Regions from separate parts of the Homo sapiens genome. Here region 2 is linked to region 1. Evidence: fine-mapped expression QTL. Tissue or cell type: left ventricle. Region 1 holds a variant in brackets; the other region holds the start of a gene. All regions are shown on one strand. Distances are from middle to middle. Region 1 holds the start of LOC124901031 (a long non-coding RNA gene). Region 2 holds the start of ERAP1 (endoplasmic reticulum aminopeptidase 1).

The links.
Region 2: it holds the start of ERAP1, and the variant in region 1 is fine-mapped to the expression of ERAP1 in left ventricle (GTEx, PIP above 0.99). The same link has a PIP of 0.9 or more in spinal cord, subcutaneous fat and visceral fat.

Annotation. Positions count from the first base shown.
Region 1 is chr5:96,778,876-96,784,139 of GRCh38, forward strand. It overlaps ERAP1 (endoplasmic reticulum aminopeptidase 1), which reads right to left. Exons shown (of 19, transcript NM_001040458.3): 14 at 5,049-5,205; 15 at 4,176-4,360; 16 at 2,818-2,979; 17 at 2,183-2,323; 18 at 1,548-1,629. It overlaps LOC124901031 (a long non-coding RNA gene), which reads left to right and starts at 5,205. Exons shown (of 2, transcript XR_007058877.1): 1 at 5,205-5,264. RefSeq lists an enhancer at 1,497-2,696. The variant G/A (reference allele first, on the strand shown) is at 2,361.
Region 2 is chr5:96,805,674-96,811,169 of GRCh38, forward strand. ERAP1 (endoplasmic reticulum aminopeptidase 1) reads right to left here and starts at 2,272. Exons shown (of 19, transcript NM_001040458.3): 1 at 2,187-2,272. It overlaps LOC124901033 (a long non-coding RNA gene), which reads left to right and starts at 1,785. Exons shown (of 3, transcript XR_007058879.1): 1 at 1,785-2,904. RefSeq lists a silencer at 1,693-2,152 and enhancers at 1,725-2,226, 2,227-2,726, 2,883-2,952.

The DNA of each region.
Region 1 (5,264 bases):
AAGAAAGGATTCAGGATGACTCCCGTATTTTATATGTCCGTAGTTTGCTCTCCATTATGATAACATCTCGGGCTCTTTACTTTTCATGCCCTGCTTCAGGATCTTCGCACCTGATATTTCCTCTGCACACAATACTCCTCTAGATGTTGGCATTTCCTTCGATATCTTCTCAAATGTCTCCTAATCATCCTATAAAACAGCACCAACCCTCTATCCCAATCACTCTCCTTGCCTTATTCATCTTCAGAGCATGTAACTACTTGACATTGGTTGATTTGTCTGTAATTGTCTGATTCCCACAGCAGAAATTTCAGCTCCGTGACAGCAAAGGTTTTGTCTGTCTGTTCACTGTTACAGCCCCATAACCTAAAACCATGTGTGGCATATATGTCTTGAATGAATTAATGAGAATACAAGTGAATGAATGAAATGCTTTGTTGCTATAGATCTTGTCTATAGATGACTACCTTTCTGGTCAAGGCTTTGGACATCTCTTCAGTCATCAGACAGAGTATCTCTGCTCTAGACCTCGCTGGAGTTCAAGCTTGAATTATTATATGCAAGTTAATTTTACAAGCCTGGATGAGGCTACTGAAAACTGGAAAAAAGCTACGAGACTGTAACAACCCTTCATTCTTTTTCATTTCCAAAGCTCTCTCCCCATCTCAAGCTAGAAAATAGTGTAACCAGACTACACAATGGAACCACTCCTAAAAAAATTAATATTAGCCTCTCAGCTTTTATCTAAATGTACCACAGTTTAAGAGCCTTGTAAAATTTGTTCCACAACTTTACTATAGGAAACCTTATTATAGAAGGGACACCACAGAACTCAATGGCCCACACATCAAAGTCCTCGAGTTTAGGACTGAAGAAAAGTCTGCTTTTGTAGAAAATGTGTATGCTTCATGTTCTCTTTTACCAGACAATGAGAATAACTCATACTGATTCCTCATTTTTCCTTGACTTCCAGGAATGTCTGTGATAAATTCAGGGGACAATTGCGAGAATTATCCTCAGCCATAAGTCCCTCACATGGTTATCACCTGTCCATTATGTATCTTTTTGTCCTTCATTTTAACATTTCTTTTATACATGGATCTTAAAGCTGCCTGAAATTCTTTCTGAAGGTAGATGGTTACATAATAAGTGACAGGGAACCATGAACTTGGATGGTTTATAAAGAACCTAGATTCCGGACCTGCCTCTTTAGCAACAGCTGGATGACCACTTCAGTCATTTATACCTCAGTGCCCACTTTTAACATCCTTAAACAAGGACTAATTGTCTCAAGTAATTTTCTTCAAGTCCTAAGGTTTTTACTGGCAGAGCTAAGACCTCTTAACGTGTCTGAGAAGAGGCACAGTTTTCACTAGTTTAATTGCAACTGATTTATGCTGCTGTCAACACCATAGCATCCAAAAATAACTTCTAAATGACAATCCATTTCTAACTCACCACACCCTCAAAGTATTTTGTCTACCCCATATTAATTAGCTAATTTTCATTTATGTTTAAAAATATATATATAGATTTTTTTTTTTTACCTCTTCAAGCCGTGTTCTTGTGGAGAATTGATTTGTTGTACCCATTACCATGTGGGCTATGGAAGATGAGCCAAGTTCAAACCTAGAGAGGGAAATATTCAAAAACGGGTTGTGAAATACTTATTCATTTAACATATATTTTAAGGGCCTCCTATATATAATAGCTTTCAGCTAAAAACTGATCGGTGTGAAAAATACAAAATATGATGTCTATCCAATGGGTTAAGATCTAGCTGTAAAGAATAATACACACCAACAGCCTAATAAAAGGTTAAGTATCCAACAGAAAATGACAGAAGCAGGAAATGCTATAAGAGTTAGACAAAGACAGATGTGAACAAGCAAATGTGTTCATGGAAGGCCTGGGCTGAACTGTGAGGAGGAAGGCTTCAGATATGTCCATGGGCTCAGGAAGGGGTTATGCCAGATGGAATGGAAAACATCCCTGTCCAGATTCACTAGTTAGCACTGAAGTCCAGTTTTATGTTTTCTACAAATATTTTAGGTATTTCTACTGCCTATCTTCAATCAAAAAGTACCTTTAGACTGTTACTGTTCTTTTACAAACAGCAAGGCTAAAACACAGTAAGGTTATGAACTTATCCAGTCACAGCACAATTTTTGGCACCACTTACTTTTGTACAAGTTTGTTCCAGTTTTTCCTCAGAAATTGCCAGGCCAGTGGGTATCCTACTGGGTTCCTGCCAATGAGTGTAAGAATTTGTGGAAACTCCTGAGTTTTTATTTTATCTCCCTTAAAGCTTTCATCTAGTAGCCTAGAAGGATTAAGAAAAGAAATGTTAGCAATGAATA[G/A]GTGATGAAACAGTTATGAATCACTGCAATAAAATTACTTGTAAAAGAAAAAAAAGTCTGCCAGTAACAAAGGTTAAAAAGATAAATGGGTAACCACAATCCTGATAAACCCACTATAGCTACATAATAAAAACTAACATTTATATAGTGTTCATAACACCCATTCTCATATACCCTCTCATTTGCTCAAAAGAATAGTTAAGGAAGAGTAGCTCTAGTAAATATTTTTAATATGTTGTCATTTTAAAGATGCACAAATGTATACACCTTTAAATATTTTTCCTAACACCTGGTTCTCCCTAATTATTTGCCTTTCTCATTAGATGTGTGCTGACTTGCAGTATGTTCCCAGCAGGATAGGCAATTCCTGGCCAAGAAAACAAAAATAGATGCCAGAATGATCTAATCTAATCTAATTTCCCTTGGCCACATGAACATGAATGAATGACGGACTCACCATTGAAGCTTTTCCTTATTTTGGGTTCTGCAGAGGGCAAATTCAATTTGGCTTTTCTCAGTACTGGACAAAGAAAACTGATATTTACTATAAAGAAAATCCCAGCCTTCTGTGCTCTGGGCCCCCACAGCAAACACTGCCAAGGTCACGTCGACAGGCAGGCTATAGAAAGGAACACACTCGGTGAGAATCTGAGGTGCAGTAAGTATGTTTAGAGGCATAATGGTGACTAACTATGAACTGCTGAACTTTCCCCATGATCAGAGAAGCATGCCTGGAAATATAAACAAAAACTACTGATTTCCTTCAGTTACAATTTTTTTTTTTTTTTTTTTTAGGACGGAGTCTTGCTCTGTCACCCAGGCTGGAGTGCCGTGGCTCGATATCGGTTCCTGCAAGCTCCGCCCTCCCGGGTTCACGCCATTCTCCTACCTCAGCCTCCCGAGTAGCTGGGACTACAGGCGCCCGCCACCATGCCCGGCTCATTTTTTGTATTTTAGTAGAGACGGGGTTTCACCGTCTTAGCCAGGATGGTCTTGATCCCCTGACCTCGTGATCCACCCACCTCAGCCTCCCAAAGTGCTGGGATTACAGGCGTGAGCCACCGCGCCTGGCCTAGTTACACTTTATAAAAAAAAGGCAAGAGAAAAATATCTAAAATTAGGTTTTAAGTAGCCTTCTCAAAAATGTGAAATGCCATTTTTATAAATACCTACATATTTAAATACTTTAATGATGCTGGGTGACTCCATAGGGGATCACCTTTCAAGCCAAAAGAAATTCAAACTATATTCAAAATTTACACCATGATCACAAGTCAGGACGGCAGTAGGACCACTGTTTGGATTTCTTTAAGCTGAAGCATGTAGGTTGTTGGCATAAATGTTTCCTGGGTGGGGTTTAAGCTCCAAATGTAAAAAGGACTGAAGTGTAGCAAGAATAGGGATTTCCAGATACGGTAAAATCCTACCTTGCTTAGACAGTGTCAGCAATTACTATGCATCCCTGTCAGGGAATTTGGAAGCCCAAAGAAACTACTATAAAATACAATGCATGTGTTTCTCTATGGCATGGCTGTCACCGTTTAATAAGATTTTGCATTGCCTATACAAAATGAGAATTATTCCCATACCATCCTAACTCCCCAGATATTTGACTTTTATGCATAGAAGTTCCCTCCTAGCATTTCTTAAAGTTACGAGATACATAGATAAATCTTAAAAAGCAATTTATTTTCCAGAAAAGGGCAGCAGGGGAGACACTTAAACTTTTTGTTTTCCCTAATGTTTAGTACCAATGATGGAAAACAGAAAAGATGCCCTTCACATCAACAAATTGGTTATTTAGTAAGGACTGACCTCAAGTTTCCATTGGATTCCTTCCACTTTCTGAAATAGCCTTCTGCCCTCTGTACGCACGGCTGATAGTTGTGCACACAGGCGAGGAGTAGTAGTTGACTCCGCAGCATTCGCTCTGAGACTGAGCCCTCGTCTGTCCATGTCTGCTTATCAATGAGGTCCCTTAGCAGCCTGATGAGGAAGGCCTGAGGGCGTTGTACAGGGAAACAGGGACCAGTATTGTCACAGGTCATTTCATGTTAATATAATCCATTATGGTCTCAGATGATGGGGGCTAATTTTTAAAGCATAATCTAACTTTTACTGTATAAATCATGCAGCACTGTTTAATTATAAAAGGGCCAAAAACAATAAATAATGATGAATGACTTTCATATTTTCATAACAAACTTTTATAAGATATCCATCTACTTAAAGTCAGGATGAATTGCGACTTTTAAAACAAACTCAAAGAGAGTTTACATGACTAAATTTTGAGAGCAAATTATGCAACAAGACTTCAGGACATTTTGCCAAGCATAACAATTTTGTGCCTCTTCCTCAAGTACCATGAAGAGTCCCAGAAAATCTGAACGTCAGCCATTGTAATAGGAAAGGAAAATGAAATAAAAGGTTTGTGAAAGGAAGGAAATAACAAATCCATGCAAATTAAATAGAGTCTAAGAATGCCATTCCTATTTTTAGTGCCAAATAAAACCAAAATCTTGCTAGTCCATCTAAATACTGAACTAATATTTATTTGCTTTTCCTTAATATGTATATAAAGATACACACACACACACACACACACACACACACACACACATACACACACAATGATTAACACTTTTTAACACAAATAATAATTACATAACTTTTATTTCAGGCTTTTACCTTGAATTGAGTTTCCACTTCATTCATATCTCTTTTCTCCATTAACTTATACATAGGAATCAGCTCATTCAAACCTTGAAACACGGGCATAATTTCAGTTTCATGTTTCAAGTACAGGGATAAATCCAAGGCCTTTTCAATGGACAGCTTCCCAATGCTGACCAAGAGACACTGTGGTTAGTGGTTTAAAAGTAAATCCGGGAAGTCAACTTTTTG
Region 2 (5,496 bases), 27 kb after region 1:
GGAGAACATTTTTTTGCCCTTGAAGTTGGGGAACTAGAGAGTAAATGGAACTTGTGTTTTGCTTTCCATATGGAATTACTGGCAGCAACAGCTTAATGAGCATCGCCCCTGCCCCAAGACGGGATCCAGAGGACTCTGTGAAGGTGGCAGGTTCAAGCATGTAAGGACTCTGAAAGTCCCCGAGACCTCTCCAACAGCCCCAGAGAAGATCTAGAAATTCCAACTCGTTATGAGCTGACAGAAAGGCTGATGTGCTGCGGAAGGGGTTGGTACCGGGACCTTGGATCAGAGGCTTTGCAGGGTTGGGTCCATGAGGGGTCCAAAGAGAAACAGTTATGTCTCAACGAGGATGCAGTGCATGAGTGGGGCTTGGTAAAAACTCCATGTAGTGAATAAAGGGCTTCACTAATAAATTCTCTTATTAATCCCAAACTGTAGGCTACATCCAAGATTCTGTGATCATGTTCGTGTGTTTGGCTCTTCCCCTGAAAAATTAGCTCTTGTTTGGCTTTGCTTCCAATAGTAAGTGTTCCAGTTTGAAACATGGCATTTCATGGTTCTGGCTGGTCTCCTAGGGTCTGGTTTTACTAACAATTTTCTGAAAGGGAGGCAGTTAAAAAAAAAGAAAGCTCTCAAAAACAGTAGTCTACTCAATATAAGCAGCTCTTCCCAAGAGAAGTACAATTCTCTTTGAAGTTACACTCCACTAACACTTAAAGGAATAGAAGCCAAGGAGGAAAAAGAACTAATATTTACTAAGCTCCTCCAAAGTGCCAGGCACTTTACACATGCTCACTCTCTCTAATAGCCTATTATTCTCATTCAAGGTGGGGTAACTGAAGCAAAGAACCATTCATGTAACTTTGCTAAGTTCACACAACTTGTTGGAATGCAATCCACATCTGTGTGAGTATAAACTCCCTGCTTTTTCAGCTTCACCAAGATCCCTCTTTTTTTTTTTTTTTTTTTTTTTTGAGACGGAGTCTCGCTCTGTCTCCCAGGCTGGAGTGCAGTGGTGCGATCTTGGCTCACTGCAACCTCTGCCTCCCTTCCTTTTATTGGGGCACTATAGTATATGAAATAGATCATCAAGAAGTAATTGAGGTTCTTCCAGAATTTCCTGAACAATGAAATTAACAAGCACTGTTGGTAAATAATAAAAATGCTGGATTAATTTGAAAAAAAAAAAAGTACTAGAATGTTTCTATTCAGGCCGCACCTGAAAATGTGCTACTTATACTAATTAAAAATCCTCAGGCAAGAGACAACTGTGCCCAATTTTCAAGTTTTTTGTTTTGTTTTGTTTTGTTTTGTTGTTTTGTTAATTGTTGACCACGTCCTGAGTTCAGAGCGAATCCTCTGGGTGTTTAATAGGAAACAGATAATTTCTTTCTGAACCTAGCCTACACAAAGAAATCCAAAAGCGTGAGGAAGTGTGTGCTCTCCCCCTTCCCCTCATGGAATTAACTTTGTAGGACCACCTGGCCAGTGAGGCACCCAGATAGGAAACTTTTAATTTGCGTCAACAGAGGTGCTTTATCTGAATAAAACCCAGCCAGAGCCAGAGCGAAGGGGAGAGAGAGAATTGCTGACCAGAAGAACAGGAGAAGCAGGGAGGGAAGTGACCTTAAGAACACACACGGCCCGCGCATCCCACCCCACCAGAGTCTTTAACCCAAAGCCTCTGGGTTTCTCTAGCAGCTATGGGCAGGTGCCCTCCTCAGCCCGAGCCAGCTGCCCGCCCCACCCCGCCTTTTGGCCTCGCGCGGGCGTCGGTGGCCTGCAGGACTGGCAGGCATCCAGGCGCCAGGCGGAGCGCTGAGGGAGGCTCCCGCCGGCCGAACAGCGGGGAGACCCGTGAAGCAGGCGCACCGGCCACGCGCCCGGAGGGACAGGGACAGGGACCGGCAGGGGTGGGCCCGCCGCCAACCCGCCGGGCACCCCGCGGACTCGGGCCTAGCCAGCGACTCCCCCCGCCCTTCCCGCGCCCTGTCTCGCGCCCCGTCGCCTTCCTCCCGCGCCCCGTCGCCTTCCTCCCGCGCCCCGTCTCCCTCCTCCCGTGCCCCGTCTCCCTCCTCCCGTGCCCCAGGCCCTCAGCCCCCCACTTGACGGGCGCAGGGAAGGGGCGGGTGCCGCGCTCTCCTCCCGGCCCGCAGTCCCCTACCCGCGGCTCGAGCGCGCTGTACCTGGGGTTCTGGGGCCGCCCTCACCCTTGCGCCGCCGCCACCACCACTGCCGCCGGCCTAGCTCCCCCAGGACCGAAAGTGAAAGTGGAGCCCGGGGAGCGGCAGGCTGGCGCTGAGCGGCGCTTCGGCCCGAGCCCTAGCGGCAGGCGGGGAAGCCCCTGGCTAAGGCGGGAGCTGGGGAAAGGGTAAACGGGAGTGGGGCCGAGCGAGGGAAGCCGCAACTCCCAGGAAGGGAATTGGTAAATGAGCGCTGCACGCCGGGGAAGCTGCGAGGTTGCGATGCGGGGGATCAGGCGTAGGAAGTGCACGCCTTTCTGAACGCGGATCCGTGTGTGTGTGTGTGTGTGTGTGTGTGTGTGTGTGTGTGTGTGTGTGTGTGTGTGTGTGTGTGTGTGTGTGTGTTGAGATGCTTTTTGTTTTTGTCTTTTTTTTTTTTTCACTGTTTAGCGTTGCGAGGGTTAGGGGCATGCAGGAAAGGGCCGGTGCTCAAGTTGGGGACCGAAGCCAGGCAGGCGCTGACAAGTCCACCAAGCCTAGACGCGTTCGACGCCCATTGGACTCGCTGGGTGTCCGTCATCTCGCCACTGCCAGTGGGCTGAGAGCTCTTGGCCCGCCTCGGAAAGAAACATGAACCCAGTACTCTGTCGTGGCAAAGTGCCGCACCTTCTGGGGCTTCGGTAGAGAATGACTACAGTGGGAGATGCTGTAGAGGAGGAAGGTGGGTTAGAGGTGGCCCCCAGGACTTTCCTGCACTACCAAGGGCCACTGTACCCCAAGGATTAGCTGCTTCCCGCATCAACACGTTCCCTCTGATTTTTCAAAGTAAATGACCATTTCTTCACTCCCCTTAGAACAATTAAAGCTGAATAAAATGGCCAAAAAGACCATCTTTAAACAGTTGAGGCTAAATGAGGTAACAAGTCAAGAAAACACAAACATTAAAACACCAAATGCTACAAGTTTATTACCGAAAATGGGTCCCGATCCAGACCCCAAGAGAGGGTTCTTGGATTTTGCGCAAGAAAGAATTTGAGGGGAGTCCATGGAGTAAAGTGAAAGCAAGTAATTAAGAAACTAAAGGAATAAAAGAATGGCTACTCATAGGCAGAGCACCCCCAAGGGCTGTTGGTTGTCCATTTTTAGGGTTATTTCTTGATTATATGCTAAGCGGGGGAAATTATTCATGCCTCCCCTTTTTAGACCATATAGGGTAGCTTCCCGACGTTGCAGTGGCATTTGTAAACTGTCATGGAGCTGGTGAGACCGTAGCAGTGACGACCAGAGGACACTCTCATTGCCATCCTGGTTTTGGTGGGTTTTGGCCAGCTTCCTTACTGCAACCTGTTTTATCAGCAAGGTCTTTATGACCTGTGTCTTGTGCCTACCTTCTATCTCATTCTGTGACTTAGAATGTCTAACCTCCTGGGAGTGTAGCCCAGTAGGTCTCAGCCTTATTTTACCCAGCTCCTATTCAAGATGGAGTTGCTCTGGTTCAAACGTCTCTGATAATTTGGTGAGTGGACCATGGTCCTAGTGGGAACAGGACCCTTTTCATGCGGTTCTCAGACTTTCTTCTCCCACTTCTTTATTGGCCTTCTTCCCTTTGAGAACTGGGGATTCCAAGTCACTGCAACAGTATTTCTCTTTTTTTTTCAATATTATGTTTCCTTTTTAAAAATATAATGTTTCATACTGCCTATTATCTCTAGTCAAGGACATTTTATAATATAAAGATTAACACCCTGTTCCAAGACTCAACTACGGTGGGATCCAGGGAAGTTTTTTTCACTAAAATTCAACAAGAAATGAGGACTTTGAGATCTGGTAATTTCTGCATGTTCAGAATTTGACAGGAGGTATCAATGGATAGCGTGTAGCCTCCAAGACCTCCAGACATCTCGGAGTGCTCCCAGTTTACTCAAGATGAGACCTCTTTGTCCAGTAAATGTATGCATTTCTTTGCTTTTATATTTATATTTTTGAATATGATGGTTTTCCTTTGGCTTCTAGTAAAGTTTTTTTGTTTTTGTTTTTGTTTTTTGTTTATGTGTCTTTTTAAATACATATTGAAAGTCCAGCTGGCAGAACTGAATGCACCCAACAGGCTGGAGGTTAATACAGAAGACAGCTGAGGAGACAAACAGGGCAATGCCCTGAATGGATGTGGGCAGAAAGGAGCTGAAGTGTAGGCGAGGAGAGAGCTGACACCACCACCCGCTCCACGCCGTTTCCCCAAAAGCTCACCCTGACTCAGACTTTAGCCTGTCGCCCTGGCCGTGATTTCGTCTTTAGAGTTGAAGTGCACTACAAAGAGCGATAAGTCAGAGGATTTGGCAGCATTCACTTCTAGTTTCAAAGCCCTAGCAGGGATGTAGAGGACACAGACCTTGGAGTAAGGACTTTAAGGAGTCCTAGTTCTAGAGCCTGTGAGATCAAAACAGCACATTACCGAGCTTAGAAATGGTTAGAAGGAAGGGAACAGAGAGAAAGGGTACCTAGGTTTATTGATTCCCTACCAACTGTTAGATACTGTTAAATGCTAGCTATGTGTGCATGTGTGTGTTTATAATTTGATCTCTTCAGCAACCCTGTAATGTAGATATTATGCTTTATAGATGAGAAAAATGAGACAGGTCGGCAACTTGCTCAGAGTCAAAGAGAAAACACACACTAATTCTACTCACATTGCATTGGCCAGAACAAGGAGGGGTTGGTAAACACTAATATTGTATACCATATAGTGTAGGAGGGCTGGTTGGCCGGTTGAGCCCATCCATTGCAGAGGCTTCTCAGTGTCCTTAGTCCCAGAGGTGAGCCAGAGGAATGAGGAGAATTTCAGGCCTAGGCCAATGAAATACATACCACTTTGAGCTATTACTGATCTACTTAAAAAATATTGAATTCTAGATATTGTCAAGTGATGTTCAATTTTGCTGTAATTGATTGATTCAGTTCTGCTTTCATTAGCTTTTAGTCAATTAATGTCAGCGTTTGGCTCATTTCTTCTGTTTTGCTGCCAAAGCTGCTCCTATTTTAATCATATTACCACTCTCCTTTTTGATGTAAAATCTCATCCAGAATCATGGTGTAGAAAACAGACAAAAGCAGGCCTGCTCTTATTAAACAGGGCAGCTCCACCCAGTCAGCCTTGCCCACTGCTATCCGGCCCTTCCACACACATTGTGGTCCTTGAGACTCTTCCATAGGCTCCCAGGGCCTTAGAACTTAATTTTTTTAAATGCCAATTTAAAAAAAAATAATAATGCCCCTCATTCTTGATATTCTTGATAAAGAGGATGACTTTTTTCCC